2 separate regions of the Homo sapiens genome follow, and region 2 is linked to region 1. A link means that fine-mapping ties the variant in region 1 to the expression of a gene that starts in the linked region. Tissue or cell type: whole blood. Region 1 holds a variant in brackets; the other region holds the start of a gene. All regions are shown on one strand. Distances are between the middles of the regions.

Region 1 (2,768 bases):
AAGGAGGGCAGGAAGGAAGGAAGGCAGAGAGGGAAGGAGGGAGGGAGGGAAGGAAGGAAGGAGAGAGGGAAGGAAGGAGAGAGGGAAGGAAGAAAAGGAAGGAAAGGGAAGGAGGGAAGGCAGGAAGGAGGGAAGGAAGAAGGGAAGGAAGGAAAGAGGGAAGGATGGAAAGATGGAAGGAAGGAAGGCAGGAAGGAGGGAAGGAAGGAAAGAGGGAAGGAAAGAGGGAAGGAAGGAAAGATGGAAGGAAGGAAGGAAGGGAAGGAACTTGGATATGCACAAAAACAAAATTTAATACGGAAGTCTATCATCTGACCTAATTGGAAATGTACTATTTTCTACAACAATTTATACAGTCCAAAGATAAAAGGGTGCTGATTGGTATTTGTAACTCTCCAGCATATATTCTGAATCAATTTTAACATCTGCTGAAATCTACCAATTGTCATACCTTCACAAACTAAATCGATACTGAAGCTCAAACTTTGTTATACCTGAGATTTCACTAAATTTAAACATTGCATCCCCTAATCCTAGCAGAGTAACTGCATATAGAATAGAGGGCACATACTTATGCCTCACATTTGTTACCTTGACTAAATTTCCCGTAGTCATAGAAGTCTTTGTCCATAGGGGACCTGGATGCTCTGACCTAATGAGTAACAAATTGATATTAAATCATTTACACTTACACATTGACTTCACCAAATGTAACCTTACAGAACTCCCTCTCCTGTTTTTTTTTTAATTTGATTTATTTTTAATTTTTCATTTTTTAGAGATGGGGTCTTCCTTCATTACCCAGGCTGAATGAAGTGTGGTGGCACAATCGTAGTTCACTGCTGCCTTGAACTCCTGGGCTCAAGCAATCCTCCCATTTTAACCTTCCAAGTAGCTGGGTTTACAGGCATGCACCAACACAGCCAATTAAAAAAATTTATAGAAGTGGAGTCTTGCTATGTTGCCTAGGCTGGTCTCTAACTTCTGGCCTCAAGCAATCCTCCTGCCTCGGCCTCCCAAAGTGCTGGGATTACAGGTGTGAGTCACCGTGCCTAGCCTCCCCATCTTGATAAATTAGCAAATATGGTTCAACATAAATTACAACACGACTTCAAATAAATAAAACTTATTATATAAAACCAAATGAATTAGGGAAGGGGTGATAATCTTCATTGCTTCAACGTTTAGCAGTAGAATTTGGCCTGTTCTTAAACCTGCAAAGAATAAATGGTGTTTCACAGTGGATTGCTGTAATGTGACTGCAGTGCTCCCATTCATTAAGGCCCTTGTACCCAATACCTAATATTTTGGTTAATTTTTTTTATTTCAATAGGTTTTTGGGGAATATGATTTTTTTTTTTTTAATTTCAATAGGTTTTTGGGAAACAGGTGGTGTTTGCTTACAGGAATAAGTTCTTTAGTGGCGATTTCTGAGATTTGTGGTGCACCCATCACCCAAGCACTGTACATTGTACCCAATATGTACTGTTTTATCCCTCACTGCACCCACCCCACCACTCCCAGCCTTTCCCCGAGTCCCCGAAGACCATTGTATCATTCTTACACCTGTGCATCCTCACAGCTTAGCTCTCACTTATGAATGAGAACATACAATGTTTGGTTTTCCATTCCTAAGTTGCTTCA[C/T]TTGGAATAATGGTGTCCAGTTTCATCTGGGTTGCTGTGAATGCATTATTTCATTCCATCTTAAGAATGAGTAGTATTCCATGTGGTAAATATTTATACCACATTTTCTTTATCCACTTACTGATTGATGTGCATTTAGGCTGGTTTCAAATTCTTCCAATTGCATATTGTGCTGCTATAAACATGCGTGTGCAAGTATCTTTTTCATATAATGACATTTTCCTCTGAGTAGATACCCAGGAGTGGAATTACTGGATCAAATGATAGATCTGCTTTTAGTTCTTTGGAAATTTCCTCACTGTTTTCCATAGCTGTTGTACTAGCTTACATTCCCTCCAAAAAGTGTAAAAGTGTTCCCTTTTTACCACATCCATGCCAACATCTATTAATTTTTGATTTTTTGATTATGACCATTCTTGCAGGAGTGAAGGGGTATCATATTGTATTGTGGTTTTGATTTGCATTTCCCAGATAATTAGTTATGTTGAACATTTTTTCATGTGTTTGTTGGCCAGTTGCTTATCTTCTTTTGAGAATTGTCTGTTCATGTCCTTAGCCCACTTTTTGATGGGATGTTTTTCTTGCTGGTTTGTTTGAGTTCCTTGCAGATTCTGGGTATTAGTCCTTTAATCAGAAGTACAGATTGCGAAGATTTTCTCCCACTCTGTAGGTTATCTGTTTACTCTGCTGATTATTTCTCTTACTGCTCAGGAGCCTTTTAGTTTAATTAAGTCTCATCTATTTATCTTTGTTTTAGTTGCATTTGCTTTTTGGGTTATTGGTCATGAAGTCTTTGCCTAAGCCAATGTCTAGAAGGGTTTTTCCAATGTCGTCTTCTAGAATTTTTATGGTTTCAGGTATTAGATTTAAGTCCTTGATCCATCTTGAGTTGATTTTTGAATAGGGTGAGAAATGAGCATCCACTTTCATTCTTCTATGTGTGGCTTGCCATTTATCTCAGCACCATTTGTTGAATAGGGTATTCTTTCTCTGCTTTATGTTTTTGTTTGTTTTGTTGAAGATTAGATGACTGTAAGTATTTGGCTTTATTTCTGTGTTCTCTATTATGTTCCATTGATCTATATGGCTATTTTTATACCAGTGCCATGCTGTTTTGGTGACTA
Region 2 (2,768 bases), 130 kb before region 1:
GCCTACCGGAGGAGCAAAGAGGTTTCTGCAAAATTCGCCCCAACCCCAACCCTCCAAGGCCCTGGCAGCCCTGACGCAACTTCGGCTGCACAGAGCCCCAGCCCCAGCCCCCAGCCCTAGACCAGTCCCTTTGTTTCCCTTACATTCGTTTCGGCCAGAAGATCAAGGGGTTCAGTCCACCCAGGAGCAGAGGAGAGGATGTCCCTCAAGAATGAGACAGGAAGTGCAGAGGAAATGCGACACCACCTGTCGTGGAAGACAAGGCCAGTCACGGTCGCCTAGCGCTCATTCTAGGTAATCCACCCACCCATGAGGGGAAACGTGGAGAAGACACCTGCCTGAGACACCTATGGAAGCCAAGTGTTCCCGGGCCATGAGACCTGCCCAATCAAGCAGAAACACATTTGGAGAGACAAACAATCACGACACGGGTCTCCAGGAAGTGTCTCCCTGACGGAGTGGGAAGTCATCTTAGTTGAAGGCATTTGGCCAGAGCGAGAGGCATCCAGGTCCCTGAGAAACAGGGGAGGCAGAGCAAGAGGGAGGACAGAGCAGAGGCCGGAGCCCAGGCAGGATACAGCACCTTGCCACCGTCACAGGCATAAGGGGTGGGGTTCCTAAAGGGTGGCTTGTGCAGGGAGGCCAGCGTTCCAGGGACAGGGATTGTTGCCATCTCTCATTCCTGGCTTCCTCTTGCTGACTGTATCGTGGTGTGGCTTCATTTCTCAGAGAAGAGCCGCGAAAAGACTCAAACATCTTCTCTGACGTGGGTCCGCTGATCTCCTGTGGGACAAAGAGCTCCTGTGGGGCTCTTGTCCTCATCTGCAGTGTGTTCCTCTTGATGCTAGAAAAGAGGACGCTCAGGATGGGGACGAGACAGCAATTGCTCCAAGACCGACGCATCTTCTCACGTGGGCCAGGCTTTCACGCAGCCAAAGCAGATCCGCGGGGGCGAAAACGATTGACAACCGGCCTCATGACCCAGGCAGAGACACAGAAAGAGGTTCAACAAAGACAGGCCGCCATGCAAGAGACAGCTCTGTGGTTCACAGGGCATATTCAGCCAAAGACACACAAGCACACGGGCACACACACACAAACCCACAGAGAGTGGGAAAGAAACACACAGAGACTGAGAGACAGAGAGAGAAGGGAGAATGGGAGACACACACACACACAAACAAAGGGTCATACAGCAGAGGCATTGAAACACACACCACCAGGCAACCCCTGAGGCTGCGGGGTTCTGCTGTCAACCAGAACGACCCTCGGGTGAAAGAGCAGCCCAGGGGCACGCAGGCCAACCGGTCCTCGAGATCACGGACGGCGGCACGACATTTGGGGAGACTCACTCCAACCAACACCGTCCGGGCAGGCCTGAGGCTGGGAGCCCCTGCTGCTTCCCCCGTCTCCGCCTGGGGGAGCCCACCACCTACCCACCCTCCATTCACCTCCCCTCCTTAAGGCTCACTAAGCTCTATTTACCTTTTGTAACTCCATCCCTCCGTAAGTACACAACTCTCCTAGCTGGTTTCCTAGAGGGCAGATACAGTGTTTCCAGTTGGCCCTCTGCAGATATCTATGAACAAGTCTCTCCCAGCCCCTACATATAAATATGTGTGTTCTAGACAGACGGGCCTAAGTCCCAATGTAAACACATCACAAGATAATTACACCTTATATGCATACAGATCTCTCTATAGAGTTATATTTGAAAGTGTCTATAACTCTAGAGAGAGATTGCAGCATGCACATATAGGACTGTAATTACTTATATGTATTTTTATAACTATGTAGTTATAAATAGATATGCCTATATATAGTGATAATAATATAGCAATATCTCCATAGCCATATATGGCTCTAAATGAATGCTCTAACTACTCTATTTCACAATCAATAAGTATATATCTTCTGATACATAATTCTAACAATATACGTTTTTATCTATATAGCTGTTCAGAGATATAAATCTGTCAGGATATCAAATGTACATAAAGCTGGATGGCTGTAAGAGAGTCGTATATTTTCCCATATATAAATCTGCTCCTATAACTACTGTATATGCACAAATACAATGGAAATAGTTATATTTCCCTCAAACATAAATCTGTAAATACAACCACAGCACATTTAGGTACGGTTAGACATAGAGCAATATTTCCTAGATATCAGTCTGTCAATAGAGCCACAGTGTCTCCAAACAGAGAGTTATAGAGGGAGTTATAAATAAACTCTCCAGATGTGAACGGATCAGTAGAACTAGATGTAAACATGACTCCAAGCCGTTCTTTCTTCTTCTTCTTCTTTGTAAGATATTCCTGAAGCAAGCCCAGTCATATAACAGGGTGCAAAGGTGTCTGGGTACTGGTATTTTTCCCCCCAAGGAGGGTCGGAAGTCGCTGGACTTTGGGAAACTGAGCAGGAGTGGGTAGGGGACAGTGCCCGCTCCCAACGCAATCCAGAAGCCCCTTCCGTCTGTCTCCTGGTGGCTGAGAGCTCGGGCAAGTGGAGAGGCCTAAGGGAGAAAAATGAAAAAGCAGAGTCTGGCTTGAGTCGTTTGGCCCTTCTGCCTAAAACCCTCTCAACAGGGAAGCCCCGACCAGGCGTCGGAGCGGAGAGAGCCCACGAGGCACAGAGGTTGGGAGAAAGGGTCTGCAGGCCGGGCTTCGGAGGCCTAGCGGAGTCGCCAGCCGGTGCCTGACCGCCCGGCGCCCCATCGCCCAGGGCCGCTGCCTCGCCGCAGGCCTGAACACAAAACCTGGGCC

The links. PIP is the estimated chance that this variant, and not a neighbour inherited with it, causes the effect.
Region 2: it holds the start of LINC01597, and the variant in region 1 is fine-mapped to the expression of LINC01597 in whole blood (TOPMed, PIP above 0.99).

The regions. Positions count from the first base shown.
Region 1 is chr20:30,413,045-30,415,812 of GRCh38, forward strand. It overlaps the pseudogene FRG1BP. Among named protein-coding and RNA genes, the nearest start is that of FAM242A, 52 kb to the left of the region's middle. The variant C/T (reference allele first, on the strand shown) is at 1,645.
Region 2 is chr20:30,284,955-30,287,722 of GRCh38, forward strand. It overlaps LINC01597 (long intergenic non-protein coding RNA 1597), which reads right to left and starts at 1,583. Exons shown (of 2, transcript NR_145432.2): 1 at 1,486-1,583. It overlaps LOC107985433 (putative uncharacterized protein LOC401522), which reads right to left. Exons shown (of 3, transcript NR_171672.1): 3 at 2,074-2,518.